Linked DNA regions of Homo sapiens: region 1 is linked to region 2. A link means that fine-mapping ties the variant in region 2 to the expression of a gene that starts in the linked region. Tissue or cell type: subcutaneous fat. Region 2 holds a variant in brackets; the other region holds the start of a gene. All regions are shown on one strand. Distances are from middle to middle. Region 1 holds the start of ADRA1A (adrenoceptor alpha 1A). Region 2 has its middle 48 kb from the start of ADRA1A.

Evidence for each region. PIP is the estimated chance that this variant, and not a neighbour inherited with it, causes the effect.
Region 1: ADRA1A starts here. The variant in region 2 is fine-mapped to the expression of ADRA1A in subcutaneous fat (TwinsUK, PIP 0.95).

What each region holds. Positions count from the first base shown.
Region 1 is chr8:26,859,052-26,875,345 of GRCh38, forward strand. ADRA1A (adrenoceptor alpha 1A) reads right to left here and starts at 8,227. Exons shown (of 3, transcript NM_000680.4): 1 at 7,885-8,227; 2 at 5,036-6,604. The coding sequence starts at 5,918. RefSeq lists an enhancer at 6,497-7,448.
Region 2 is chr8:26,907,589-26,923,882 of GRCh38, forward strand. No RefSeq gene overlaps it. Among named protein-coding and RNA genes, the nearest start is that of ADRA1A, 48 kb to the left of the region's middle. The variant T/A (reference allele first, on the strand shown) is at 9,976.

The sequences.
Region 1 (16,294 bases), 49 kb before region 2:
CCTATTAAACATGGGTGTTTCACTTCTCAGCTGTGGATAGCACACTCATCCCTGCCCTGGTTTCAGTTTTTAATCTCTTTCCTCTCCCGCAGCCTAGTGCAGACCGACAGCCCTTTTCTCCAAAACAGCACGTCATATTTAAGAATGTATGTCCCTTGAATATAATAATATGATAGTATATTTATTCTTCTGCTCACATTTTGCATGAAAAACATACTTAAGACAGTTAATAAAAAAACATATAACATCTCGTTGACGACCCAGCAGAAGTAGTGCCATCTTCTTTAAGTCTCTGCTCTGTCAATGGTCATGCATGTAGAAGCTTCTCAGTGACCTCTCGGCACAATGAACTGCTATATTCCTTAGCACACTGTAATAATATCATTCTGAGCACCATCCTGAGCACCATGTAATAATATCACTCTGAGCACCTATGTCATAGACTTGCAATAATTGTTGACAATTTGTCTCCTTAACTAGACTGTGAGGCCCTTGAGGGCACTGTGTTTTATTCATCTTTTTTATTCTGTGTAGCTGAGAGCCTGGTGCTTATTACATAGCCAGTACATTCTTGGAGGAAATCATCTCTTACTCAATTGGTGTCAGGAAGAAATTGAGAGCCACAGACTGGCAGGTTCAGGGATCCTTTGCACTACTGAGCAGCTACTCAGACCCTGTGAACTGTATGTTCCCTACTTCCCTCCTGTCATATCATTTTTCTTTTTTTTTTTTTTTTAGACAGAATCTCGCTCTGTCACCCAGGCTGGAGTGCAGTGGTGTGACTCAGCTCACTGCAACCTCTGTCTCCCGGGTTCAAGCGATTCTCCAGCCTCAGCCTACCAGGTAGCTGGTATTACAGGCGTGCACCACCATGCCCAGCTAATTTTTGTGTTTTTAGTAAAGACAGGGTTTCACCATGTTGGCCAGGCTGGTCTCGAACTCCTGACCTCAAGTGATCCGCCTGCTCAGCCTCCCAAAGTGCTGGGATTAGAGGCATGAGCCACCGCGCCTGGCACCTCACTAGGATTTAAAAGAAGCCCAGTGATTCCGAGGGCTCCTGTCTACCACCACTTCTCTCCACCACAACATCTTCTCCTCCACACTGCTGACTCCCTGGGAGAGCAAATCCAAGAGCGGGCTATGACTAGTCAGAGCATCCACCTCCCCTAGATGACTCCAGGACCCAGGCCATTGTTTCTCATCTCTATGCATAGCTCAGCCACCACTGCAAGCTCCAAACTCTCAGGCCACCCATCGTCACCTGGGCTCCTTCTACAACCTGGCTGTGGATGCTCCCTAACCTGACCGAGTCTGTGTCTCTTCACACACACACTCTCTGGGACTCACAGTAGGTCCTCAGCATTGCCTCCTGTATCCCTCAGCTGCTTAGCTCTTAGAGAAAAACACACAACCCTCCTTCCCGCTGTACTTTAATGTTATGACCGTAAATCTCAGATAGGCCTTCAGGACTTCCCAGTGACTCTACCAAACTTCCATAAAATGTTTACTGTCCCACTCTCAAAGATGAATCTTTCACACCTTCTCTGAGGCTAAAACTGCCATCGTTCCCCATTCCTGACTCTCTCTTAGCTGATGACCTTGCTTCATATTTCACTGAGGACATAAACATATCCTAAAGAGATCACTATCTCTCTCCCTCTGTCTCTACTTGCCTCAGGGCTCACACACTTTGCTCTCCTTGTCACTTCCCAATGCTCCCCTTGGGCACTGAATCCCGTTGCCTCTTTTGCCTATCCCATCAGTGCCTCTCTCTATCCCATCGTTCCCATCAGAATATAAATATCATGTCATATCCCCACCTCCCACCATTGAAAGCTCTCTCTATACCCCTCCAGCTACACCGCATCTCCTAGCTCCAGTGTATAGCAAAACCTTTCAGAAGAGTTGTCTATTTTCCCTGTTCCCACTTTTTTTATCCTTTGTTCTTTCTAGAAAGTACACAATCAGGCTTTTGGTTCCATCACTCCTCTGGACCTGTGAGCCTCACGTGCCTTCCTCCTATCACTAAAAACCTGCTTACTGCCAAATCTAGTGTTGGCTCCCAGTCCTCCTCTAACCTGACCTCTCAGCTGCATGTGACACAGCTGATTACTCCTGCCTTCTTGAAACATTTTCACTAGGCTTCCAGGACATCACATTCTCCTGATTTTTCTTCTCCCTGGCTACTCCTTTGCAATCTTGTTTGCTGGCTGTTTCTCCTGTTTTTCCTGACCTGACCCCCAGAGGCTCTGTTTTTTTTTTTTTTTTTTTTAGATGGAGCCTCGCTCTGCACCCAGGCTGGAGTGCAGGCATGATCTCGGCTCACTGCAACCTCTGCCTCCCGGGTTCAAGCGATTCTCCTGCCTCAGCCTCCCAAATAGCTGGGACTAAAGGTGCAGAGGCTCTGTTCTTATCTCTCTTTACTCTCTTTATCTTTTCTCTTGTCAACCTCTCCATTCTTGTAGCTTTAAAGATGTTGATATATCCCAAGTTTATATCTGTAGCCCGCCTCCTCTCTAAGCTCCAAATCTATGTAAAGTGTATAACTCCCTACTTGCCATCTCTACTTCCATGTCTAATGAATGTTTCTCAACACAGTGATACAAAAGAAAGGCTCATACTTCTCACTCCCTGCAGCCCCTTGCAGCCACATAACTCTTTGGTTTTGCCAGTTTTAGTGAAGTGCATTACTATTTACTCAGCTATTCAGGCCCTAAACCTACCTATTTCTCACACCCTTGTCCACACTCATCAACTTTACCTGTAAAATAAGTGCTGAATGTGATCACGTCTTACCACCTCTACCTGTCTCACCTGAGTCCAAGATGTCATGACCTCTCTCCCCTCGACTTCTAATAGCCTTTTAACTAGTCTCTGCTTCTGCTCTTGCCCCCAAACAGCCAATTTTCCCCCCAACAACCAGAATGATCCTTCAAAAATATAAATGAGACTGGCCACTCACCTGCTAAACACCCTTGAATGACTTCCCACCACAATTAGAATAATATGCAAACTTTACTTTGGCCTGAAAGACCCCATATGACTTTGGTGTTGTCTATCTCTCCAATCTCTTCTTGAACTTGACTGCCCCCTCCCTGTCTGTAGTTGAGCCATACTGGCCTCTGTGATCTTCATTGAACAGGTCAGGCTCTTTCCCATCTCTGTACTCGCTGCTCCCTCTGCCCAGGAAGCTCTTCTTCCCAGATCTTGCAAGCTTTGCTCTTCAGTCCAGTCAGGACTCTGCTCAAATATCACCTCTTTAGACAGAATTTTCCCCACTACCCACTAAAGCAGGCCCTCATTGTCTTTGTCACTTTCTAGCCTCTCATCCTGTTGATTTTTTGATAGTGCATGTTAATCTTGACATTTTAGGATACAATCATTTGCTTATGTCTACCCTTTCCAAATACAACCGTCTCATTGGCAAGGACTTTTCTGCCCTGTTCATCCAAAGTGCCTAGAACAGATGGTCCATAAATACTTGTTGAGCGAGCACACGCATGAATACGTGTGCAAAGGGGCTCAGGTAAAGAGTGTAATTTCTATAATTTCAAAGCTGTGATGTACTTCCAGGAGCAGAGTAAGTAATAATGATGGGCAGGCACAATGGAAGGCCAGGTATTGGATTAAGGAGGGCCTCTCTGGCAGCCCTACAGGACAGACATTTCTGCAATGATAGAAATGACCTATATCTCTGCTGTCTAAAACAGTAGTCACTGGCCACGTGTGACTATGGAGCACTTGAGATGTGGTCAGTGGGACTGAGGAATTGAGGAACTGAAAGAATTTTATTTAATTTCAATTAACATTTAAATAGCTATCCTTGGCTGGTGGCTATGGTATTAGAACCTGAAGAATCCCTTCCCATGGCTTGTGATTGCAGGATAATTGTGTATAACTCACTGAGTTGTCGAGGGGACTAATGAAATAAAAAGCTTAGGAAAATGTCTGGAACATAAGTGGCACAAAAAAATAATAGTTGCTATTATTCCACAGAGTTGCAAATTAAAGTACTTTAAGTATATGCCATTTAAATTAGGCTGTAAAGCACTTGAAATGGACTTTTATTAATGTTAGGCATAATGTTTTGTTTTTTAGAGTTGGTGGATAATCGATGTTTGGGTCTGTATTTGAGCTTACAAACTAAAAATAGCACACAACCATTTTGGGATCTCATTGAAGGAGATAGATGTCTATTCCAAGTGGATCAGCTTGCTGATACTTATAATGAGCTAATTAATTTTGACAACAGCTAATTTAGCATCTGCAAAAATTGGATTTGTAACATTATGTGTACTGTATTATTTTCAAACAGTGTTATCTGCAACTTCCCGGATGATTTTGGATAAGAGAAGTGTTTGTTTTAATACTTATTATTAAAATAAAAAAATAAGTATTTACTTATTGGAAATACTATGATTAATTATTTAAGGCTTAAATTGGTTTGGACATAAAATCATTTTTTTTTCTTAGTGGCTGACCATAATTCCTTCCATACTGAATCCAGAAAATAAAATTAGCACAGATATAGAACATAAACAGACCATTATAACAAACCCTTATGAATAACCTAATGCAATAATAAAATCACACATTTGTCCAGAATAAGCATGGTACTTATTTTCAGGCCAAGAGAATTTGCATTCTGTAGCAGAGTGAAAATGGCATTCCACAGTCAGCCTAAGCACTTGGTGGAGACTCTGAGACTAGAGAGAGCAGATGCATTTAAATTGAACACGTGCTTATAGGCATTAAGAAAAGTTGACATTCTTATTAAAGAGACCAATTAATCTGCATCAGTTGGAAGCCACTTTACAGTCGAAAAAGTGCTCTAGGACCTAATATAAATGAGACTGGAGTAGAAAGAGAATGAAAATTCACTTTTCTACAAGGGAGCCTTTTCTAATTGCCCTAGAGCTGTGCTGTTTGAAATGCTAATCCTTCCTCTTCCATCCCGGACTGGGAGTCTGGGGTAACAGAAGCCGAGGAGGGTGAAGACCCCCAGATGCTAAAGTGAGGGGTGTTCAAGACTTACCAATGGGCATGACTAAGAAAAAAGGCAGCCAGCAGAGGACGAAGCAGCCGACCACGATGCCCAGCGTTTTGGCCGCTTTCTTCTCCCGGGAGAACTTGAGGAGCCTCACTGAGAAGTGCGTCTTGGTCTTGGCGCTGGCCATCCCGCTGCCTCCTGCCGGGGCGTTTTTCCGATGGATGCGGAGCGTCACTTGCTCCGAGTCCGACTTGTCGGTCTTGAGGCCAGACTTGAGGCCCCGGCTCTCCCTCTTGGCCACCACGTAGACGCGGCAGTACATGACCAGGATGATGGCCAGAGGCAGGTAGAAGGAGCCCAGCGCTGAGAAGAGCACGTAGCCCGGCTCCTCGTTGATCTGGCAGATGGTCTCGTCCTCGGGGGCCGGCTGCCTCCAGCCGAACAGGGGTCCAATGGATATGACCAGGGAGAGTGCCCAGACGCAGAGCAGAGCCATGAGACCCCTCCTCTGGGTGACGATGGTTGGGTAGCGCAGCGGGTAGCTCACGCCGATGTAGCGGTCGATGGAGATGATGCAGAGGCCCATGATGGACGCGGTGCAGCACAGCACATCCACTGCCGCCCAGATGTTGCAGAAGACCCTGCCGAAGGCCCAGTAGCCTAGGACCTCGAAGATGGCGGAGAAGGGCAGCACCGTGGAGGTGAGCAGGAGGTCGGCCACCGCCAGGTTGACGATGTAGTAGTGCGTGACTGAGTGCAGGTGTCGGTGACAGGCTACGGAGAGGATCACTAGGATGTTACCCAGCACCCCGAAAAGAATGAGGCCCCCCAAGATCACCCCGAGCAGAATGGCCTTGGAAATGTTCACCGGTGCCGGCGGTTGGGTGCAGTTGGAGCTGTCGGAAGCATTTCCCGAGAGAAACACCATGGTCCCAGCCGGGGCCGGGCGAGGTCCGGCTGTCCAGGGCCACCTCCCGGGCTGGCGCGGAGGCGGGAGCGCGGGAGCCGGGAATCAAAAGGTCTCGGCTGGAGGGAGCCCTGCCAGGTGGGTTTGGCTGGGGGTGAGAGCGCGCGCGCGGGTGGGAAACAACCCTGGCCAGCCCTGGGAACCCTCAGAAGGCCACATGAAGGGGCAGGGCATTAAAGACATGGCCAGGGGCGCGCGGGGCTGCCGGGGACCCTCTCCACCTGCCGGGCTGGCCTAGCCCGGGACCCGGACTCCCTCCCTACCCGAAGCTGGGTGCGAAGATCCAGGAGACTCCTTGCAACATGCAATTCCAGAATTACGAGAATCTGCTTTTCCGCGCTGTCTTATTCGTCCTGGCTGGGGGAAGATTCAGCATTCTGCACATGATTCGGAATTCAAAACTCCAGCGCCAGTCTCTCCCTCAAACCAAAAGATCAGCCGTCGACGCTCAAAGGCAGGGACCGATGGTTGGGTAGCGCAGCGCTACAGGTTGGGCGCTGCTCCTGGCCCGCAGTTACCTACATTTTGAGCTGCCCCACCGAAGGCTCCTGCTCTCTCCAGCTTCTAGGAGCACAGGTCAGGGGACGTAGGTGTGGAATATGTGCTGAGACCCAGGAGGCTGCGGGGCATCGTTTGACCGCGTCCACCTGAAAGAGCGCAAAGAGAAAGGCGGCTTTGAGCTAGGCGCCCCAGGGAAAGAGGCTGTGCTGAGCTTGACGGGTTGGGGGACACCAGTTGGGAGCCGGGTTGGTTCTGCGGTCCAGAAGCTGCTTCGCCCGGCAGCGGTGGAGGCGACTTCGGAGCTCATCTCGCGCCCCCACCACTGGGAACCTGCCTAGCGCACTCTACTGAGTCACCTCTGCCCGAGTTCAGGATCCGAAGCGAAAAACAAACAAAAAAACAAATCCCCAAAACCCCAGGCTCCAGCGCTCGAAGTCTGGATTTCGAGCGCAGGTACCACGAAATTAAAATCCTCGAAGCCCCGGAGGGGCGACTGCGGCTGGCGAGTGTGTCGCACGGATCCTAGCCGGGGAATTCTGGAGGATGTACTCGGTTTCCGTTAGAACAGGTTGCCTCGCAGTCACCTGGAGGGGGCGGCCTGGGAGAGGGAACAGCTGCGACCCAGGGACCTCAGGGCCAGGACCACGAGCACGCTCACTCTCACGCCGGTGGAATTCGCACTCGGGTGTGCAGAGCGCACCGGTCTGTCCACCAGCCAAGCTGGCTTGAGAGCCAGGTCCCGAGCGAAGCCGGGAGGGACCCGAAGACAGAAAGCGACCCAGGTCTGTCCACGACGCCTTTCCAAGCCTCACTGTTGGCCACCCGAGGGGCTCCAGCTGCCAGCCGTAGCGGGACTGGCGGGGGACGGGGTGGGGAGGACGTCCCTCTGCAGAGGGAGCTTTGCAAGTGACAGTCACTGCGGATTTTGCAGGCGTAAACATTAAGCCGGCATGCCAGCGGGCAGGGGCCGCCTTCGATTTTCTGGGCTGGGGGCCACCATCTGCGTAAGAAACCTGGGTTTCCACAACTGCGAACCTACCGCAGGGACTCGGCAGGACAGCGCGGCGTGAGGAAGTGCCCACCTTGCCTTCTGGGGTTGGGCCCTGAGGTGGGACCTCGGGCAAAGACTCTTGTTAAAATCGCAAGTTGGAGACCTCACAGGTGGTATTAAAAACGTGCCACTGCAGAAACCCTTTTCCTCCTACCTCGAGGGTGATAAACACAGGGTTAAAAAGACACTTGTTCAGTAGAAGGCAACTTCGCAGAAGATGTAAGGGAATCGGGGGTGGGGTAGAGGGGCCGGTATAAAACCTGGTGGAAAAAGCGGGAGGCGCTGGGAAAAGTGGGGGTTCCGTCTCACCAGACGGCGGGGGAGGTCTGCCCTCACCCACTCGGCCCTGCGGGACGCCGGCCCCGGCGCACTCACCTGAAGCGCCGCTGCTGAGCCACCAGCTCGCGCGCGGGGGATGTGGACCCGGCTTCGGTCCCGGGAGCTGCCTGCCTGCTCTTCTCTGGAGGCGGAGAGGGGACCGTGTCTCCGAGGCACCAAATCCTTGTCCTTTTGCACCCGCTGACTCACCCCTCCACCACTGATGTCTTTAAGCTCCTGAACCGCTGTCACTTTACCTGCATTTTTTAAAAAGAGTCAAAATAAGAAAAGAAAAAAAAATGCAGATAACCGGTAACTCCACAATCACCCTTTTAATATTCAGCTCCCCGACACCAGAAAAGAATAGCAAGGAACTTTGCAGCTCTCGCTGACGTAACTCAGGCAGTAGCCCAGCTAGTACCGTAATCTCCTGCTGCTACCGTATTACTCTACGGCAACAGGCACAAGTGCGTATACAGCTGTAATGTTTTCCTCTGGCCTAGAGGGGGTTGGGTTCTAGCGTTTCTTTAAAAAGGTTTGTGTGTGTGTGTGTGTGTGTGTGCGCGCGCGCGCGCGCGTGTGTGTGTGTAGAGTCATTTGTAGTAAATAACTTCTTTAAATGAGCTTTTAAAAATAACGAAAAATTGACACCCTTGCTAGATATTGCTGTGTGTATGGTGTGTTCATAGGAATGTGCTATAAAGTAACTTTGAACAGCTTGATTTGATTAACATTTGGCCTAGGTTTTGTTAAGATCAAGAAGTATATTAAGAATATTGTAATTCTAAATATGCAAGTAAATTATAAGGTGTTTTAAATAGCAAGTAAAATCAGATAAAATATGACAAATCTGATTGTAATGAAATTATATTTTCAGGAAGATAAAGTGGACATATCTAAACCTTATTTAATATGATTCACTTCTAATTTCTTTAGACAGATGAATTTTAAGAGCATTATGGCCACAGAGTTTGGTATTTTTTAAATGCCACACAATCTTTTCCAGTTTTCTTGAGAAAATGGTATCCTTTCAGGAGTGTTACTCTCTTTAATTCATTAATAGCTGGAGTATGAAAACCTAGCACCACCAGTCTTATTACTTTTTTTCTGGTAAATTACATAATCTGTTTACCTTGTGATTGAATAAAGTCACATGTGTTTCAGAATATCGGGAACATAGAAAAATGTTTCCCACTCCAATTCCCACCTCCTAAGTCATCTTTCATCTTTATTGATGCAGACAAAGTGGAATGTTCTTATTTACTAGGTCTCCTTAAACCTAGGAACAAGGAGATAACTTTAAGCAGTGGCACTTAAATTCTCTCCTGTGAACAAAATCATATTAATATGATTACCTTTTCTAAGTGAGATAATGTTTGGGAGGCTCTTTTATAGCAATAAATCTCAAAATGCCTCAGAGGAATGCCCATGAGAGGGTCAGTAAATCCTATGTCATGGAAGACCTAATATATGTATTTATTTCTCTATTGTATACAAAGTCCTCCACCTCTGCCTCATACCTGTAGGGATAGAACTCACACCTAACACATTTGATTTGAATTTAATATATTTTTAAAACTGAATTTCGTGCCATAGGAGGAGCATCCTGGTTGAACAGACAGCTCCACTTCTCATTACTAAGTCACCTGCTCTCTCTGGGATTCAGTCCCCTTAGGAGGAAGCTTGACCTCAATTCCCTGCACTTCTAGTACTTTATCATCAAATATGTGTATAATGTCTGTGCTTCCGAAATCCCATCCATCAGAGGGATATACACTGTTTTGTTTTGTATTCATTAACCTGATGCTGTGAATGCAAATTCTTCATTAAGATGTGTTCCATGGTAGATAAGGGAAGCAGTGCTATCAGCAAGCAAAGCAACTGAAAATTGCTCAGCTCTGCAAGGTCGAAAATTGCAAAAGTCTTTGTAACTCCCAGTCCCCACTCTACAACAATTAAGAATACACATAATCCACCCCTGCACCCACCTCCAATAATTAACTAGTTAATACTAAGATAAGGAAGAGCAGCTCTTCATGCTGCTAGCAGGTAGGTCTTTCAAATCTGCTTCTCAGCCTGTGACCATCAATCCTTGCAAAACGACCTCTCAGAACCAATTTTTCAGTCACCTACCATTGATTCACAAACAGAAAACTATCCATCTGTTGGTTACTCTTTAAAGAATAGTTGACGTGGACATCCCAGAAAGTGTCTGAGTTGTACACATGGGTAGGTGGAGTGGAGAGGAGTATGCTCTGGGGTCATAAAGATGCTATTCTGACCCTCCTATGCGACCATGGCAAAGCCTTGGTTTCCTAATTTTTAAAGGGAGACAATGAACCCCCACAAGGTTGTTATTAGTGTTGAAAGAAATTACGTTTCTCAAAAACTCAGCTCATAATATTCACTAACTCTATTATTAATCTTATTAACTCCCTTTCTGCTCATTTTGTATGCTACTTTATAGTGAAATATATTTCTAACCCAGGTAGTCCATGAACACTGGTAAATTCAGCTGGAGAATGTGCTAAGTGTCTTGAGCACTACACTTGAGCTAAGTGGTTTAATCAGAATGACCCAACATGGTTAAGTTGCAAGAGCTGGCCCTGATCACTGGCTGCTTCTTTTCTTCTCACTTTCCCCCTTGTTCTTTGTCTTGAGGGGCCATGCAAATGTGTGTGAACACCTCAGCCCCTACAGCCAGAAAGCTGCCTTCTTGGCCTCAGGCCTTGGGGTACACACATTTGTGATGTTGTCTGCCCAGAGAGAATGGACCTGAAAGTGATTGTGTGGCCATCTGGGGCAAGGGATTCTGAGTCCCAGGGCATGGTCTAGAAAGGAGGGCACAGGCTCCAGGTGGGCATATCACATTAGTCCTATGGCCAAAAGGAGTCAGAGCTGGACTCTCTAAAGCCTGAAACCCTAGCCGGGGTCCCTCTTGCCTGGCTCTGAGGGTGATACTCTGAAGACTTCCGGTGTGACAGAAATTGAAGAATCCCCTGAAGGGGTGGTTGTGGAAAGACTCATAAAATGATATTGCTTGATGTAGGATTTGTGGAATCAGCAGGATTGAGATTTGTAGACAAAAGTGAGGAAGGTGAACCATCAGCAGCCGCATTTTAGAGTGGTGTGTCAGGGATGCTGGGGGAATGAGTCTGATTGGAGAAGAGCTGAGCAATGGACATAAACCCATGCATTGATTGGCAGGACTTTCTTAGTGACTAGTGAGGAACTCGGCAAGTGTGGTAGGCTTAGAGGTTTAAAAAAATAAAGAATCTGTCTATCATTCCCTTAGAAAACAATACACAATGGAATTAGGAGCTGTGTTCTGGAATTTATGATTGCAAATGACAGAGTAGAAGACTTAATGTTAGTATCTACCCCAAAGACTTGGCTTTTCAACTAATTCTCCTAAGGCTTAATAAGTTAAAGAGGCAAGAAAATGAAAAACAATTCTCAGAAAGGTATTGATGCAGTATCAAGTCACAGCTCTCCAAAGAAGCATTGTGTTCTAATCCTTTATCGAACTGAGAACACTGCACAGCCCACAGATACTGCTGAGGGATGTCTTTGATGAGATAGTAATTCTGTCTTTGCCATCATTTTTCCAAATCTTCATTGCCCTGAGAAAATAACATACTCCAAGTCTTGGGAGTCATACCACCCCATCCCTACACTGTGGGACTATCATGGTAGGAATATGAGGTCAAGTCAGCCTATAGCTGATCAGCAAATAATTCCTTTAAAACAATAAGACTTTGCTCTCGCATAGCAAATCTAAGCTGAGGCATATTAATCAAATTTTTTCAATATCTTTGTCAATATCATCTGGAAATGGAAGTAAAAGAAAGTCAATATGTGTACCAAGTGCAGACACATTTTTATCTCATCTCTTCACTTGCTGATGGGCTGTTATAGGCACTTTAAAATGCTTATTGACTTGTATTTAATTATAAAATTTATGCTCATAATAGCACATTTGGAAAAGTCAGACAGAAATGTATGAAAATAAAAATTATCTGTAATCCTGCCACTGGAGAAATAGCTATTGTTAAATATTTGTCATATTTTCTCATTTTTTGTTAATGTGTATAAATTATATACATGGAAAAATATATATACACATGTACATACCAGGAAATATTTTATGTACATGTATTTATTATGCATACATATATATTTCACATATTATACATTGTATACATTATATAAAAGAGTGTAATCATACTGTACCTATAATTATATATCTTACTTTTTCACTTATATTATATCATGAACTCATTCTATTATTACATTTATACCAAAACATGGTTTATAAGAGCTCCACAGTGATTCTATTATATGTATATGCTATTGTCTGAATGTTTGTGTTCTCCCCAAAATTCATATGTTGTAGCCTAAATTCCGAGGTGATGGTATTAAGAGGTGGGGTCTTTGTAAGATGATTAGGTCACGAGGGTTCCATCCTCAGGAATGGACTTAGTGCTGTTATAATAGAGGGAGCCTCTTTGCCCTTCTGCCATGTGAGAACACACAGAAGGCGACATCTATGAAGAATGGGCGCTTGCCTAGCATCAAATCTTCTGGCACCTTGATCTTGGACTTTGCAACTTCCCGAGCAATATATTTCTTTTGTTTATAAATTATCTAGTCTAAGGTATTTTGTTATAGCAGCCTGAACAGACTAAGACACTGTATGTCATGACAAATTAAATATTTAAATATTCAGGCTTTAAAAAAAATTCTGATCTATAACTTGAACTGTGGTAAATCCTCTTATTTATTTATTATTTTACTTTAAGTTCTGGGATACATGTGCAGAATGTGCAGGTTTGTTGCATAGGTGTACATGTGCCGTGGTGGTTTGCTGCACATATCAACCCCATCATCTAGGTTTTAAGCCCCACATGCATTAGGTATTTGTCCTAATGCTTTCCCTCCCCTTGCCCCCCATCCCCTGACAGGCCCCAGTGTGTGTTGTTCCCCTCCCTGTGTCCATGTATTCTCATTGTTCAACTCCCACTTATGAGTGAGAACATGCGGTGTTTGATTTTCTGTTCCTATGTTAGTTTGCTGAGCATGATGGCTTCCAGCTTCATCCACGTCCCTGCAAAGGACATGAATTCAATTCTTTTTTATGTCTGCATCGTATTCCACGGTGTATATGTGCCACATTGATAAATACTCTTACATATAATATTGTACTCCAAATTTTCCTTAAGATTAATTTCTGTAACTAAAATTAGAATAACAAAGGTTATGAACATTTAAGAGGTTATAACAGATATTGACCTCTAGAAAGGTTTTACAAATGTAGATGTAAAATATAAACTCCCAATAGGAGTGCATAACAGAACCTGTTTTTTGTTTTTTTACTTATTTATTGTTTGTCTCTTGCCAACTTTGACTGTTTATAATAAACTAGACAAGTACATAATATATGTAAATAAAATAAACCGTAGGCAATTTTATAAGTAAAAAATAATATCTCATTTTTTAAAATTTGTATTCTTTAGTTATGATTTTATTTCTTTACATTTATTTGGCATTTCTATGTTTTCGTTTGTGATTTGCTTGTCCGTATTTCTGCTAGCCAGGTGATATGGTTTGGCTCTGTGTCCCCACACAAATCTCATCTCAAATTCTAATCCCCATGTGTCAGGGGAGAGATCTGGTGGGAGGTGATTGGATCATGAGGGTGGGTTCCCCCATGCTGTTCTTGTGATAGCGAGGGACTTCTCATGATATCCGATAGCTTTAAAAATGACAGTTTCTCCTGCACTCCCTCTCTCTCCTGCCGCTCTGTGAAGAAGGTGCCTTGCTTTCCCTTCACCTTCCACCTTATTATAAGTTTCCTGAGGCCTCTCCAGCCATGCAGAACTGTGAATCAATTAAACGTCTTTTGTTTATAAATTACCCAGTCTCAGTGTGAAAACAAACTAATACACCAGGATTTGGTCAGAAACTGCTGTAGTTGTTTCACGTAGGAAGGATTTAATACAGGGAATCAGAGGCTTATAATATTGCTGGGAAATATTGGGAAACAGATTAGAGAAAGCTACTGTTAACCTCTGGGAATTCTGAAGTGCAGGTGTATCAGGAAACCGTGTTGGTGATTTCAGCTGCCTAAAGCACCAATGATGTGCAGGTCACCCAGGAGATCCTGGCAGAACCTCACCTCTACTGTTGGCTGAAGTCTTCATCCTTGCACAACACTGCTACAGGGTGAGAAATGGCTTCCGCTTCTCTTCCACTTTCCAAAATCTCACAAAATTCCTCTCATTGGTGAATTGTGACCCAGAATCCCGATGGCACAGATTATTCTAGCCTTTGCAATGCAGAGAAGAGCATAGAAAGAAAAAAAAAATGACCCTGAGTGGACAACAGACAATTTGGTATAATGTCCATTACCCATTTTGATATTGGTATTTTCCTCTTTTATCATATTGATTTGTAAGAACTTCTTATGTATTATGGTGGCCTTGAAAACATGCCATTTGATCTACAGCAAGGAGCATAATTGACTTAGATTCTCTTAGATTTTGCTCTTCTGGGTCCATTCCTGCATTCATGCCACACTTTCTATAGGCTGTTCTCAACCAATGGCAAAGCAGGGCAAAGGTTCTAATGCAGGCTCATTACTGTAATATATGGGATTTCTTGAATTGGTGAATTTGTCTCACGTCAGCTAAAACTTCCTTGTAACTGTGCAACAGTCTGACACTTTTCCTTCCCTTCTTCTTCAGAAGGTGTCAACTTGGACCATAGTCTGGAGGCTCTCCTTACCTTCTGAATTAGTCTGTTCTCATGCTGCTAATAAAGACATACTTGAGATTGGGTAATTTATAAAGGAAAGAGGTTTATTCGACTCACAGTTCCACATGGCTGGGGAGGCCTCACAATCATGGTTGAAAGCAAATAAGAAGCAAGGTCAACATCTTACATGGTGGTAAGCAAGAGAGCTTGTGTAGAGGAACTCTCCTTTATAAACCATCAGATCTCATGAGTCTCATTCACCACCACGAGAACAGCATGGGAAGGACCTTCCCCCATGATTCAATTTTCTCCCACTGGGTCCCTTCCACGACATGTGGGAATTATCAGAGATACAATTCAGGATGAGATTTGGGTGGGGACATAGCCAAACCATATAACCTTTCCCAGCTCCCTCCCTCCTTGCCTTTACAGGCACTTCCTAGTAAATCTCTTGTATGATGAAATCTTATCTTGGTGTATGCTTTTTGGAGGGCCAAAGGTAACACATATATTAAAGATATTAGAACTTTGTGATATTCGTTGCCATTTCTTCTCATCACAGACATTTAAAAAGAAAAACTTCATGAATTTATATAAAGAGAGAGGCTCTTCCCACATAAGTTCTTCCATAATCAGTATATAAAGTATCATATTATTTATACCTGGGTAACCTGTAAGCTTCATATATTTTGTGCAGATTTTATAAAATTTTACTTATTAGTGATTTTTCTCAGTGATCAGGATGGTTGACCTCATGAAAAAACCCACAGGGGCTTCCTCACTTCTCTCTACTCAGGGAATTTTCCTAAAATTAACCTACATGAAGAAGATAAGAATTTGTACTAACTTTAAAGTCTTTCCTTCTGAAATGAAAAGAGTGAGTATTGATAACGAGCAGTCCCTCAATTTCTTCTGGCTGAGGAGCAGCAGATAATAACACTATTACTTTAAAAGCTTAAAATCAGAGTGTTTTGTCACTTTTATTGATGGATAAGCTTGAGTTCTGAATCAATATTCAGAGTTTCTCCAGTCGTGTTAATTTAACGGCCAGTTTATTTACTTTCTGAACAAAGATGTGGGACATGTATTGATAAAATGGTTTTGTTTCTCTGTCCAGCATCAGAAAAAGCAAAACAGAATAATTTTTTCAGTTCTTTTTTTTCTTACTTACTGAAACCACCTTTATTACCTTTCCTACTCCCTTGTAGCAGTCAAATGAATCCAATTATGAGGAATTAAGCCTATAAGGAAAGACACGCATCAGAAGTCAGCCCAGTCTGATTTTATCAGAAGTACCAATTGTACCTGGGGAATCCTTGGAAAGAATGGTTGAATTATCAGCTGAGAAAATCTTGGGGAAAATAAACCTTGAAAGCCGGGGATCTAGTAATCTATTTTACATTTTCGATGACAAATGAGTTTATAAATATGAAGACAGAAAGTTGTTTAATGATATAAACACTAGTTTAAACTAACATAGGGAGATTCATCTCCATTAGCCAAATTTCCAAGTATTCCTGTTACTGATTTCTAGTTTTATACTACTGTGATCAGAAAAGATACTTAACGTCATTTCAATCTTTTTACATTTATTCAGATTTGTTTTGTGATAACATATGCCTATTTTGAAGAATATTCTGTGTGCACTTGAGAAGAATGTGTATACTATTGCTATTAGATAGAATATTCTACATATGTCTGTTAGATCCAT
Region 2 (16,294 bases):
GCTGGTACCTCTCATTGGCCACCATGGCTGGCAGGAGCACAGCTGCCATCAAGATCCTCGTGCTGGTTGTTGTGAACTCTGTTTCACTTCTCTTCTGTGTTTCTACCTGACTCTGAGTTGTCTAGTGGTGCCATTACCCTCAGTGTTCTCCATGAGGTGAAACTGGAGGGGGCTTCCCAGGAAACATCTCAGAATGCTAGAGAAGATGAATGTCCCTTTCTGGTTCTCTTTTCTCAAAATAAAAACCATAAACCCTAGGGAATTCTCTCTTCATGGCACTGTGCCAATTTGGGAGAGAGGAAGCAAGGGGGGTGATGTGGTCAAAGTGAGACTTTTTCTCTTACTCTCTCTTGTGTTTTTTATTAAGTTCCATGGCCCACAAAGGTGTCTTGGTCTTGTTCCCATGTTTCAGGGTTTTCACAAGGTGTTCTTGTCTGTGGCTAGTTTCTAATTGGACTTTCTGTGGGGATCAAGCTACCTGGGACCACCTATCCTGGAATCTTGCTGATGTCACCGTTAGGGAAATGCAAATCAAAACCACAGTAAGAAACTTCACACTCACTAGGATAGCTAGAATGAAAAAGTCAGATGGTAAGTTTGGTGAGGATGTGGAGAAAGCAGAACCCTCATACACCACTGGTAGTAATATAAACTTGTACAGCCACTTGGTAGTTTCTGAAAAATTAAACATAAGGTTACCATGTGATCCAACAATTCCATTCACATGTATATATCAAGAGAAATAAAAGCATATGTCTATACAAAACTTGGACAAGAATGTTCATAAAAGCATTATTTATAAAAACCAAAAAGATGAAAATGACCCAAATGTCAACCAACTGATGAATGGTAAAACAAAACGTGGTATGTCCATACAATGGAATATTACTTAGCCATAAAAAATGAAGTGCAGATACATGCCACAACTTAGATAAACCTTGGAAAATTATGCTGAATTAAAGAAGCCAGCCACAAAGGACTACACATATATCATTCCATGTGTATAAAATATCCAGAATAGACAAATCTATAGAGTCAAAAAGTAGATTAGTTGTTGCTTAGGGCTGGGAGGTTGGGGTGATAGGGAAGGTGGTGGATGACAGCTAAAGGATACTGGGTTGCTTTTTGAAATTATGAAAATATTCTAAAACTGATAGTGGTGATAATTACATGATTCTGTGAATGTACTAAATCCGTGGAACTGGATATTTTAAATGGAGGAATTGTGTTGTATGTGAGTAAATTCAGTAAAACCATTACTTAAAAAATAAAAAAGAAAGCTCCTGAAGTGATTCCAATATTCCATGAGATTTGAGAACCTCCACCCTAATCTATTCTAACTCAGCCTGCTTCGGCAGGGAGTAGGATGAGGTGGGGTGCAGGCAGGGACAGATTTAAGTTCTTAAGTATTTGTGAGCTGTCACCTTAAGAAACCCAGTTATTTTGGGCATGAAATATCCTTAGCTGACTGCAATCCTGGGGTAGAGGACATGGTTCTCCCTCCCTTCCAGAATCCTGGCAGCTCTGGCAGACTGCTACACCAGCAGGAGCAGAAGGTTCAGTCTACTGTGTTACCTTAGACTTGGGGAGAAAACAGGGCCAAGTAGCACTAATTCTTTACATACTGGTTAATACTGAATGACATAAAGGGTACGTATTAAGATAGGAATAGCTTAGACTACTTGCCAATAGTCCCTAATAGTCTATCAATCACACCTCAGCTGAAATCCTGACATGTCACTTGTACATGTATACACGGATAATGTCACTCAGGTAAATGCACAATGAGCAGACTTTGTTTAGTTAAATTTAATGATGCTGACATGGTGCTAAATCAATGGGCCAAAGTCCATCTGTTGAGTAGAATAAAAATCAGAGTTACAGAACTTTAAAGATGAATTATTCTTCAAGGAGCACTAAATCCAACTTATGTTTTTCTGACAATTAAACAGGGGCAGAAAAAGGTCAGCTGACTACCCCGGCACATTGCAAACATTTAAAGAGCTACTTTGAGGGCTCCTTCCATCTTGAGATGGTAAATGTAGCAGTGTTTGAGCACAGTCTATATTGCTGTCTTAATCTGGACCCTGCAGAGAAACAGAACCAATAGGATGGAAATGTGTGTGTGTGTTTGCGGTGTGTGTGTGTTTATGATTTATCATAAGGAATTGGCTCATGTGGTTGTAGAGGTTGACATGCCTCAAGATCTGTAGTAGGCAAGCTGGAGACCCAGGAGAGCTGATGGCATCATTTCAGACTGCGTCCAAAGGCCTGAGAACCAACAGAACTGAAGGGAGAAGTTACAGTTTAAGACTGAGTTTGAAGGCAGGAGAACACTGATGTCCCAGCTTAACAACAGTTAGGCAGGAGAAGTTTCTTCTCAATTATCTTTGGATGAGGCCCACCCACATCAGGGAAGAACATTTGCTTTACTAGTCTACTGATTGAAATGTTAATCTCATCCATAAGCACCCTCACAGACACACCCAGAATAATGTTTGGCCAAATGTCTGGGCACCCCGTAGCTCAGTCAAGTTGATGCATAAAATTAACCATCAAAACTGCCTTTAGGTTCTGATGGATCCTGTGTTTACACAGGAAGTAGGATGTCAGTTCTCTATGCTATAGGGTTTGGTCTGTCAGTGTTGGGCATCTGTGTGCACTCTCCTTGGCACCTCAGAGCAAGGGTTAGCATGGAGTAGAAAATTACAGAAGGGCCAGGAGGACATGTAGCCATTGTGGTCCTGTGAGAGAAGTGGAGCCTTAGAGAATGGCAAGATCACTGTGGTCCAGAGTAGTTAGAAGTTTCATGGAGGGGATGTGACCTGAATGGTGCCTTGAGGAATGATTGTACTTTTTCTGGGGAGAGAGGAGACAGAGAGGATCCAGTGGAAAAAGCAGCATGAACAGACACAGCATGAAGGAGTGGGTGGGGCAACAGGCAGGAAGCAGCCTGACTGCAACAGAGTGCATGCCGGGAAACAGGAAGAAGCAAAATGGGTAGATGTGGTCTAAGAAATTAGAGTGAAAGAATTAGACTTCACACCGTAATAACAGGAAGCCACTTCTCAAGCCGGGCATTCATCTGATGGCAATGACATTCTAGAAAGAGTTGTTTGCTCTTCCAGTTAAATCCTTAAAGATGAATGGTTGTGACGTAATGGTCTCCAACAGCCCCCTTATTATCAATCACCTAAAAAAAAATTAAATTTATTTTACTTAAAATATGGTAATGGAAACTAATTCAGTAATAACAAAATTTGATTTTATTCTGTTCTTTAGATACTGAGAAAATTAAGAGCAAACTTTCCAGGCTTGTGTGAATTTCAGAAGAATATTCTCATTTTACATATGGCAAAGTGAGGCAATGGTCTCACCATATAATATAACAATGTAATCTTATATTCTTAAGAACTGCTGTTAAGAACCACCATTTAAAACAAATTTTTATATTATGATTCTTTCAATAATATTGCTATTAGTCTTGTAATATACTTGTATTCTGGGACTACTTCTACTTACTTTTATACGTAGCCCAACTTTGCAAGGAAAATACTCTCTTAATAGTTGAAAAATGGCAGTGTGCTACTGGCTTATATTTTACCAACACTGCTTCTCCCCAGTGCATGTTTAGGTGCAGAGCTATTTCATTATCACAGCAGAATAATTGCCATTTTCAAAGCCAGCCCTCAGAGCCAAGCAGTGAAATTGTAAAAATTCTTTTACAACTAGCAGTTGTGAGATCTTACATACGTAGAGTGCACTTCTAGGACAAGCATTTAAGATACTTGGGGTCTTCCTCAAACCATTCTAACATTATCTCTAGCTACTAAAAATAAAACAGGTAAGTCAACTTTTAGGACCACATTTGTAATTCTTTTAGAAAGAATAAGAAGATGATATCCATGAAATATTTGAAGGTGAATTTGAATATGAATACCATATGATATGTGAAAAACTATGAAACAGGCTTAAATGTTTTAATACTTCCCATCAATCACACTGCACACTTTTTGACATCTTTTATGTTCCAATTGATATAGATGTAGAAATTTCCATCAGAGGCTTGGGGGAAAATTATATATCTAAACTTATTGCTATTGTTCCTTCATGCTTTTTCTTCCTTATAAGGAAGTTTTGCAAGAAACTTCATCCCAAGAGGTCATCTTCCCTGTAAAATGCGGCAAACACCCTTTTTAAAGATGAGAAAGGAGGGCGTTGAATTTGGGAGACGATGGTGTTCCAGAAAGGATGGAGCAATGCATGGCTGTCAAACACAGCTGTACACTAAATTACCTGGAGCATTTTCAAAACTATTGATGCCTTGGTCTCATCCACCAGAGCTTCTGATTTAATTGATGTGTGGTGCAGCCTGGCATCAAGATTTTTCAAAACTCCCCAGGTGATTCCAATGTGCACCCAAGGTTAAGGACACTGGGGTGGTGGCCATGGGCTTGAGTAACAGCTGGAGGGAGTCAGGTGTGTCGTACAGACTCCATGATCCTCCTTCCTGTATGTGAAAAGTGGAAAAATACCAGCATTTTACAGGGCTATTGTAAGGATCAAATAAAAGGAAGAATATGAAATTTCACTGAAAACTATAAAGGGCTCAACAAGTGTTGACCTTCTCAGAGATATATTCAGACCCTTTTACTCCAAAAAAATAGCAATCTAATTTGCACAAAAAGTCATGCTTCAATCATCTTTACAGAAAACAAAAGTCCTGCCAATTTTTGAAATAGTTACTCATCACCCTGGTAGACTTTGGAAACTCACTGACCATTTTGTATAATAAGTAGATTTTATACTAACAGAGGAATATGTAAATGCTATTACGAAAACAGATATATTTAGCTGTTTGCATATATATATACACACACACACACACACACACACACAGCTGTACATCTGTACATATACACACAAACAGCTAAATATATCTGTTTTAGTAATAGCATTTACATATTCCTCTGTTAGTATATTTCCCTTGGGGTAACTGATTATATATATATATATATATATATGCACCCATATGGGAAAAACTGAACTGGGTGGGTAGACTAGCAGACTAGCAGTAGAATTTTATCTCTGCATAATTTGGGTGCATCGAGAAAAAAAGGAAGTCACTGATAGAATAAGGAAAATAGAGCTCACTACTAATGTGCAGAAATCTGCAAAGGAGAGGGAAATTGTTAAAATAAAAGTTAAGGAAGATGAGAACATGGAGGTGATTGATGAAATTGACAACATGAGGGAGTTTTGAGACTTACACATGGGTAGTATCCAATGAGTTGTGGGAAATGAAATTCAAGGAAGATGAACTGAAAAATGAACAAAAATTCCCAAAAAGAGGAGTGGAGAAAAAGGCATCAAGGGGACTAAGACCCCAAGGGAGAATTTATTCATAAGATGCTGGAGTTAGTAGAGTATCCTTGGATACTGGTGGAAGTGACCCATGGAGGAAAGGCTGATGATGGAGAGAAGGGCTAATTGCAGGAGTGAGATCCTTCAGAAAGGGTGTTGAGATGCTATCCTAAAGGAGTCTGACAGGAAAATGAATCATACATTTGTAACAAGATAGAACACTGAGATTATAGATACGGATGTCAGCTTATTATAAATTTGAGGATGGGAGATTTTCAGCTTTATCAGTGAAGTGTGATGCAAGATCATCAGCTAAGAATGTTGGGAGTTGGACCCTCTGGGCCAGAGGAGAAGGTAGGAAATTTTGTCCTACAGTGTGGAAAACAGACTTATTAGGCAGATGAGGTAGAATTGCTGATGCGTGTTTAATGTCAATTTGTTGTCACTGGTCATGAATTTAATTTGAAGTCAGTCAGTCCTTTGGTCCATTCTTAGGCACAAGTGCAGGAAAGGTGGAGGTTTGGGTTTTAACAGGATGGTGGTTTTGCTCAGGGAGAAGAATGAGCGGAGTTGTTGTGTTAGCAAGTTTGGCTTCATGAAACACTGAGCACTTACCAGTTGGGTTTTGGTGGGGGAGTGTACAGAATTCTTTTATAGAACCTGTTCTTTCAAACGTCTCTTAATTCAGTGCATGACTTCCTCTCCCTAGCCAATAGCCAGATTGGGATGCAGCCAACTGGGAAGCTTCAAACAGTCAGTCATCTCTAAGGGGCTTTAAATTACTAAAATATATCAGAAATACAGGAACAAGCATCCTGTTTTTACATTTCTGGCATAGTGGACTGAACGGTGGCCCACCACAATATATGTCCACCAGAACCTATAAATGTGATTTGATTTGGAAAAATGGTCTTTACAAATGAAATTGAGGATCTCAAGATGAGATCATCTCTAAATCCAATGACAAGTGACCCTTGTAAGACAAGAGAAGGAGAGAAAACACAGAGGAAAAGGCTATGCCAAAAAGAAAGAAGAAAGAAAAAGAAAGAAAGAAAGAAGGAAGGAAGGAAAGAAAGAAAGAAAGACAGAAAGAAAGAAAAGAAAGAGAAAGAGAGAGAGAAAGAAAGAAAGAAGTTGACCAGAATAGGCAAAGTTACACATACTTAAAGTAAACTAATGGTTGCCTTGGGCTAGGGACTGGGATGGACATGACACCTAATGGGTATGGGGTTTCTTTTGGGAGGAATAAAAATATTCCAGAATTAGATAGTGGTGATGTAAAGCTTTGAAAATATACTAACATCATTTAGTTGTATACTTTAAGAGACTGAATGTATAGTATGTGAATTATTTCTCAATAAAGCTGTGAACAAAAGAGAAACAAATAAACAAACAAAAAAGAAAACAGAGGCAGAAGTTGGAGTTATGCAGCTCTTCCAAAGAACAGCTGGAGCTACCAGATGTTGGAAGAGGCCAGGAAGGATTCTTCCCCTAGAGCCTTCAGAGGGAGTGTGGCCTGCCAGCACCTTGACCTTGGACTTCTGGCTCCCAGGACTGTGAGAAAATACATTTCAGTTGTTTTAAGCCACCACGTTTGTGGTAACTTGTTACAGCAGCCCCAGGAAGCAAACATAACTGTCAACATGGAAATAGTTCCTGCTCCCAGTAAAAGGAATGGTACCCCTAAGTAAACAGAAAAAAATAATAAAACTAGTAAACCTTGCCAGTGCTGACCTAGGTCTGTTGAGTGTATTTGTGGCATGCATATGACAACTTATAGGGCCCATCATCTGGCCAGTCACTGATCTTCAACTGTATTAGTCTATTTTCACGCTGCTGATAAAGACACACCCGAGACTGGGCAATTTACAAAAGAAAGAGGTTTAACTGGACTTACGGTTCCACATGGCTGGGGAGGGTTCACAATCATGGTGGAGGGCAAGGAGGAGCAAGTCACGTCTTACATGGATGGCAGCAGGCAAAGAGAGAATGTACCAGCAGGGGAAATGCCAGATGCTTATAAAACCATCAGATCTCTTGAGAATTCACTCACTATCACAAGAACAGTATGGGGGAAACTGCCCCCATGATGCAATTATCTCCACCTGGCTCCGGCCTTGACATGTGAGGATTATTACAGTTCAAGGTGAGATTTGGGCAGGGACATAGCCAAACCATATCATCGACCAATCTGTTGACAGTTGCCTGAAAACGTCAGCAGAGCAGTCTGGAATTCTGAAATGAATAGTGGATGGCATGGGGGTGGGACTCATTTTCTTATCTAAAATTGAAAAGTACTAATATCTCATCTGAGAACCTAGTTTTTTTGAAAATTGAAAGAGAAAACTCGATGGAGAACGATTATGAAAGAAAAGGGAATGTTGTGTTAATTCGTTTTTTTTTTTTTTCGGTGGAAGTAAATTAGTAAGTGACTGTTCTTCCTCCAGTTTCGAGCAAACATTCTTTGCCCAGGATCTGATTCCTATCTCAGTTTGAAATAGAAATCAAAATGGAATAATATTTGACGTTTTGCTGTTTCAGATAATTAATGTCAAGAAACAATAACTGAAAATTGGTGGGATTAGAGTAGGGCTCTTTTCCATGTGAAAATGGAAACCTGGGATTTCATTGCTGCTGCTGACATCAGTCATGAGGCTCCCGCTCCATGGCCTGGTGCCCGACTGAACAAATGGTGAGCACGTTGTGCCATGAGAGCAGGAGTCCCAGCTGATCACTGCTTTCTCTCTCTGGCTTCCAATGTGTACAGAAGAAACTCAAAACAGCAAACGGGGGTCAAGCCCCAGTTTTGCTGTTGACAATATCGTCATGGAGAATAGGGCTTGAACCTGAGCCTAAATGGGGCGTTTTCTCCTGCCTCTGTGTTTGAGATAACTGGCCATCACCGAAGAGCAAAGGGCTGACTGCAGTTATCCACCCAGAGGCTAGAACAGAAGGATCAGAGGCTTGGCTGAGCTGTCAGAGGAGTGAGGGCCAGGGAATGTGCTGGTCAGCTCACCAAAGGTAAATTCATTGGGCTGGCCAAGAGGGTAATAACTGAACCGGATAAGTGAGCTGGATAAAGGGAGCCCTGGCTGTTTCTTTGAATGTGGCTGTAGAGCGTATACTCAGCCTGTACCTACCTGCCCCCACTCCCACCACCAAGCCCACTAACCAAACTCACTGACTGAGGAGCCGGCTGGGGATAAAGGATCCCCCAACATGAGGCATAGGTGGAAAAACAGTCCATTTATTTTAAGGTTCCCAATAACTGCTGCTTCTCTGATTCAATATACTATAGGAAAATTGCTCATGGGAAAAAGTTATAAATGTGATGACTTAATAAACTTAAAATGATCAAGCCGTATTTACAATCATCAATATCAAATGAGCGTTTATATTCTCTATGGGAACATGCCACTTGACAATGTTTCTGTTGTCAAAGAGAATGTGTCAGAAAATCAAAACATTCTGTGAAAGCAAAAAAGAAAAAAAGAACCCAAAACAATAAAACAGATTTATTTTATCCTTAGTTGAGTAATGCTATCTGGTTATGTGATGAACTGTGAAATGATAAGCAATTCTAAATGAGTTTTAAATTCAGCTCAAGTAATAAAGCCCTTAATATGGACCTAATGAAAGAGATATACAATTCCATTAATCACTGAAAGCAGTTTCTGGAAGTCACATATCTTGAGCTGCACCTGCCTGGTCTGATATGAGGCTAGGCCATTTCAGAGCCTGTAATCCAGGGAAATCCTAGGAAGGGAAAGGAGATGTGAAAACAGGAGTTGAGTATTTATTATTCTCTGATACCGTGTAGTTAAAAAACACCCCACCCCCCATTCCTTCAGCATTTTAGGGGCTCAAAATGGTAATGAAAAGATTCATTATGGGGCTGGGTGTGGTGGTTCATGCCTGTAATCCCGGCTCTTTGGGAGGCCAAGGCGGGCGGATCACTTGAGGTCAGGAGTTCAAGACCAGCCTGGCCAACATGGTGAAACCTGTCTCTATTAAAATTACAAAACTTAGCCATGCATAATCCTGAGTAGCTGGGATTACAAGCGGGCATGGTGGCAGGCACCTATAATCCCAGCTTCTCAGGAGGCTGAGGCAGGAAAATTGCTTGAACCTCAGAGGAGGAGCTTGCAGTGAGCCGAGATTGTGCCACTGCAATCCAGCCAGGGCAAAGAGGCAGACTCTGTCTCAAAAAAAAAAAAAAAAGATTCATTATGATTGGGCATGTGAAGTAAGTATTCTCTTGCAACCCACTTTCTTAACAGTATGTGCCACTTTTATCAGTTCTTTTCTAGAGATGCTCATCTCCATTTATGTTATTAAAATCTATCCATATAAAAGGAATTGATTTTTATAAACTTCAAGGTAGTAATTTAATGACTTTAATAAAATTACTCCCTTAAAACTGTAAAACATTAGTGATTACCCTTCTCATCTGAAGGACAGACCACAGACAATAATACATTTGCAAGAACAAAAGGAAACTGGAACTGGAAGTCACTTTGGTTGTATTGTCAGCCAACTGATGTTTCTACTACCTTTTCTTTACTGTTCCCATTAGCTCATTTTGAAACACATTAAAAAATTATTATTTTT[T/A]ATTAATACTCCAGATTTTTACATATATATGGGGTACATGTGATATTTTGATTCATGCATACAATGTGTGATGATTGCAGTATTTAAGATATCCCTTACATCGAACATTTATTATTTCTTTGTGTTAGGAACATTTCAGTTAACAACAATATGTTGCATATTTCAAAACAGCTACAAGAGAAAATTAGAAAATTGAAGCATATTTTGATGACATACTTTTCTAGTTTCTTCAAAGGATATGGATGGGGGATCTTTTCTGTTATCCTCACTGAAACAATGACATCCCTTTCCGTGAGAATTAATGCTTATTACTTATTACCATGATCCAGACGCTGGTCTTAGTGCTTTACATTTGTTATTCAATCATTATGATAAACTACACAAAGAAAGTGTATTACGTCATTCTTGCATTGCTATAAAGAAATATCTGAGGGTGGGTAATCTATTTTAAAAAAGAGGTTTGACTGGCTCACAGTTCTGCAGACTGTATAGGAAGCATAGTGCTGGCATCTGCTTCTAAGGAGGCCTCTGGAAGCTTCCAATCATGGCAGAAGGCAAAGAGGGAGGAGGCTCACTACATGGCGAAAGCAAGAGCAAGATGGAGGAAGGTGCTGCACACCTTTAAACAACCAGATCTCATGTGAACTCACTCACTATTGTGAGGACATCACCAATCCATGAGGGACCTGCTCTCATGACCCAAACACCTTCCACCAGGCCCCGCCTTCAACATTGGAGATCACATTTCAACATGAGATTTGCAGAAACAAACATGCAAAGGGTACTATTTTTTATCCCATTTTTCAATGACAAAGGAGGGGCACAATGATAGATGCCCAGGTAGTCAGACTCAAGCACACGCTCCCACCCATCAGGCTACCCTTCCACTCTCCATCTTTATCTTCAAAGGCTGTTTTGTTCACGGGAATTCCTAAACCGTCTCTTCCCTTGAGTCCTCTTCCCATAAATGTTGTTGAGAATTCTCAGAAGGTTAAAGGACTTGCTAAAATTTGCACAGTGAGTGGAGCTGAATTTAAAACCAGGCCTTCTGATCTCAAATCCTATCAGCTTTAATAACATCACACTACTGGATATAGCTGAAGTTTTCAACTTGGGAGAAACTGGCTCTGAAACAAAATAGTTGGCACTATTTCACTTCTTTCACAAATAAAATCCAGATGGATTTCAGAATTAAGTCTTGCAAATGAAACCATAAAAGTACTGCAGGAAAATTTTGTTGAATATTTATGTAATCTTGGGGCGGCAAGGCCCATTCTAAAAATGCCCCAAAAGTAGGAAAGATAGATACATTAGATTTCATAAAAATAAAAAGTATGTAAAAACATTGCATACAAAAAAAGGAAAGGCAGGCCGGGCGTGGTGGCTCATGCCTGTAATCCCAGCACTTTCGGAGGTCGAGGTGGGTGGATCACCTGATGTCAGGAGTTGGAGAACAGCCTGGCCAACATAGTGAAACGCTGTCACTACTAAAAATACAAAAATTACCTGGGCGAGGTGGTGCACACCTGTAATCCCAGCTACTTGGGAGGCTGAGGCAGAAGAATTGCTTGAATCCGGGTGGCGGAGGTTGCAGTGAGCTGAGATCGTGCCACTACTGTACTTCAGCCTGGGCAACAGAGTGAAACTCCGTCTCAAAATAAAATAAAATAAAAAGCAAAAAAAAAATAGGAAGGGCAAACACCTGTGCAAAAAAGAAATCCTCTCTTTTTATTGATTCATTCAAAAAAGATTAGCACTGGGGTAAAATGGAGAGGAAAGGCAATGTTCCTGCCTTCATGGAGTTTATAATCCAAAGACAAAGTCAGACACTGATGAATATGCAATTACATGAAACAAAGGACCCCAGGGGACCCCGGAGATACTTTTTACATGCTCTCCAGGTGGGTTTTTTTCTCCTCACATGACTCTCAAGTAGGTGGACTTTTCCTTCAATCTATCCACTTATTTCTTGCGGAAATCTATTAATGTTTTTGACACCTGGATGCTACACTTCTCTAGTTTTTAGTACCAATATTTCAACTGCGCTGCAGTTCTGGGGACATTGCAGTTGGGTATAACAAAGGAGAGGTGGGTAAGCAAATAGTTTCTATCTGGAACCAGATTCTGCATAACTTTAGCAAATGTATTCTGCAGGAACACTGCAAAGGGAAACTACGTACTGTCCAGCATAGCCCATGGCCTTTTGGGGAAGATTGGGACACTTCTGCTCTGACTCCAAGTTATTTCATTACAGCCAGAGGCAATTTGGCCAAGAAAGACCCTGACAGTGTTTCCACTAGGAAATATTCAGGCCTTCTTTCCTCTCTTGCCAGAAAGTACCCTCAAAGCCAAAGGGAAGAAAACAAGGAGCAGTAGTAAAGACCCGTTACTAGCAGGGAGAGTGCTTCCCTTGGCCTGTGCCCAGGGTGACTTGGCCATCATAAGCACTAAGTTCTCAGGGTCTGAGCAGAGATACAAGGGTCTTTATGTGAGAGGAGCCCATAGCTGGTGAGCCTCTCCAAGCCAACTCTATTGTCCCACTCCTCTAAGATAATGGATTTTAAAAATTGGCAGAAGGAGTGTGCAAATTCTTTTCTTGCTTCTAACTTGCTTAGCATCAGGCTTTTTCTGTAACCTTTGAGTGAAATAAAACACAGCCTAAATCGTGGTCCTCAACTGTGAGTGGATTTCCCCCCACAGGACTTTGACAATCTCTGGAGACATTTTTGATTGTCATGACTGTGTGGGAGTTGTTGCTACTGGCATCTAGCAGGTAGAGGCCAAGCATCTGGCAATGCTCAGGACAGCCCTCAAGACAAGGAATTATCTAGTCCAAGTGTCAGCATGCCTAGATGGAGAAATACTGACCTAGGGATACAAATACTCCTTCAAACAATCTCTCAGAGCAAAAACAAAATAAAATAAAAAGGCACCAGGCTGGGTTGGTGAATATTTTGGAAAGAAAGAGGGCTTTGGTTTTATTTCTCATTTATTTTGCACAGAATTCTCAGACTTTTCACAAATAAAAGGGGAGTTATAGGCATGACCGGTGTGAAGTCAAAGTAACAGCTTTCACCATGACACATTGTCAAGTATATTTCTTGGACTCTCTCTCTCTTTTTTTTTTTTTTTGTAATTCCCACTTCAAAACCCAAAATCAAAACTTATCTAAATATCTTTGGTAAAATACATATTCAAGTTTTGCATTATTTGGATACTTACTCCCTCTAACTCTACAACGTTACATATTTTCCTACTGCATTTTTAACTTTCTAGCTAGCTTTAATGGGCATTTTATATTAACTCCTTCTGAAGTTTTTGTCCCAGAGTAAAAATATATTGACCTAATGTAATAGTGTATTTTACTATCATTTTTAAATTGTTTTAATTTGTGTGTCTTTTATCTTTATGGCCCACTGGTTTCACTTGTTTCTAAGTATTATATGGTTTGGCTTAATTTCACAGATGCGTATAAATTTCCCTTTACTTGCTGTAAAATTAACTGTGAATTATGAGCATGTGCTCTAGTAAATGTTCACAGCTTCTCTATTAGGAACACTCAGATGACTGGGAAGTTACTAAAACTGGGGTTCCAAGAAAAAACAGTGGATAAATGTTTAACTCCTTTAGCGTTGACTCCTTTCTGAAAGGCAAATTTTTAAGACCTCGGATTCTTTATATGTTAAATGTGGTTTATCATTAGGAATTTCATCTGGTTATGTGACAGGAAAGATCACTGACTTGAGCAGGATAGGATTTTATGGATTCACTTTTGTAAAATAGGTCTGGAGACAGGCAGTCTAGGACTGACATCGTCTGGTGGCACCATCCGGTCATCTCAAATTGAAGCTCCTTACTTTGAGTTGCTTCATGCTCAGTCATGGCTTCTGCCTTCAAGGTCCCCTGTAGTTCACATTGACTGGAACTCTAGCCATTGCCTGCACATTCCAGCACAGAGAAAATAAGAGAAACAGGACAAAAGGGTGGCCATGCCTTTCAAGGTGCTGTCCTAGCAGTCCCATGTCATACTTCTGCTAACATCTCATTGCTAGAATTTAATCTCTGTCAGGGAGGCTGGGAAATGCAGTCCTCGAACTGAGTACGTTGCCATCTCCAATAAGATTGGGATTCTGTTACCAATGAGAAATGACAGACTAGGAGTTATACAGTGAGCAGTCTCTGCGACAAGTATTTCCAAACTTTTAAAGTTAAGGAACCATGTTTTTCCCAAAAAAATTGTATTTGGGTGTCCACTAATTTTCACTGCTTTCTTCTGACACTGATTTCTCTCTCAGCACTCCCAAGGTTCTGGAAGATTTCTATGGAACTAAGGTTCCATAAGGGCACCATGGGTTTGAAAATCATTAGCTAAGATAATTTCCAAAGGTGTATTCTTTTTTAAAAATTCTGATTCTTTGATTTTGTTGATTTGTAGGATAAGTAATAGCTAAAGAATCACATTTCTCAGTGATTATGACAAACTTTAAAAATTATTTTTTATTTCTCTATTTTTGAGACAGGGTCTTGCTCTGTCACTTAGGCTGGACTGCAGTGGCATGATCACAGCTCATTGCAGCCTCGACCTTCTAGGATAAAGCGATTCTTTCACTGCAGGCTCCTGAGTAGATAAGACCATAGGTGCATACCACCATGACTGGCTAATTTTTTAAAAAAATATTTTTAATTTTGTAGAGATGGGGTATCCTTATGTTGCCCAGGCTGATCTCAAATTCCTGGGCTCAAGTGATCCTCCTGCCTAGGTCTCCCGAAGTGCTGGGATTATAGGTGTGAAACACCACACTCAGCCGTAACAAACTTTTAAAAATTGTGGTTGTTAAATTATAGGTGTCGAAAACAATGTTTTAATTCAGTTTTCTTAATCTGAGCATTCCATTCATGGAACAATGCCCCCTTTTTCCTCCAGTCCTCACCAAGTTAAAAATGGATAAAGATGAATTGGGATTGGGTTAAATATATTTGAAGAAATATTTGTATTTATTTGTTTTTCTTTCCTGTTTTCCTCTTAGTAGTGTTGGCGTAAGTTAATCGTTCTGAATATGTTCAGTAGTGTTTGAATCTGTTGTGTTTCCTGAGATCATTTGTAAGGCACATATTGTTCTCCCTATACCTTAAAACTAATTCCACTTTTACCACTAAACTAAGACGTTGTAGAAAGTATATGGTTGTTAACAGCACACATCCTTATACTCAAATATCATTTCTCTCACCTAATAGCTGTGAGATTTTGAGCAAATTAATTTTCTTAAAATATGTCTTCATTTATAAACATAATGATATCTATCTTGTTGATTTTTTAGGGTTAAACAAAAATAATGCATTGTAGGCACTTTATAAATGTTAGTTTCCTTTTATGAAGAGTATAAGTTACTCATATCATAAAAAAGCTTTAGGCCCTTCTCTGAAAATGAAGAACCAGAGGAAGATGGGCATAGGGAAGGAATCAGAACTATTAAGATGGTGATGGCTTGGTCTGGGAATTCATGTCAAGGAATGAAGGAGCCTTGATTATAGGATGCAGGTTAGTATATTTAACCTCACTCTTACATATAATACCATCATTGTGTAAACACACACACACACACGCACACACCACACTATATGAATACAAATCATGAAACATCAACGGAAATGTAACAGCAAAAGATAATGTATGTTTTTTAGAATTGTACCCTGGTTGTGATTCTAAAATTTCTTGGCTTCAGAAAGTGGCATTGGTCTGATTCAGGTTTATTCTTGGCTCTCACATGAAAACAGCAGGCCCGGCCAAAGGCTAAATTATGAATCTTTCAAGTTTGACTTTGGCAAGCCTCCTCCTTTCAGCACCTTCCTTAACTCCAGGACAAAGTGGGGGTTGGGGGAAGAATGGGGAGGTGTTGACCAAAAAAAGAGAAGGGTGTGTGAAGACATTTTTTCCAGCTATTGGGATGTGAGGAAATGATGCAGGACACACCATTTCTTGGGGTGCAAATTTCCTACTTTGAGAAACACTGCCTTAAGAGATAGCTGCAAAACATGTTCCCTTTTCCTGTAAGACTATAGCTGATGAAAGCATTTCACCCAGACCCGGATCAGTCAGAGGGAGTTCCAAAAATAGTAAAAGTATGTTAAGAGCACGTCTGTTGAGAAAATCACAAGATATTAGTCTCTGCAGCAGCTTTTCGTCTCTCTTCATGTATCCTCTTCCTTCATTTATGAATATTTCTTGACTCAGCCTATTTCCAAGGGATTGATTTCACAATACCTGCAATCTCCAACCTTGCCAGCTATAGGCATTTAACCTGCAAGAGGTTCAGCTGGC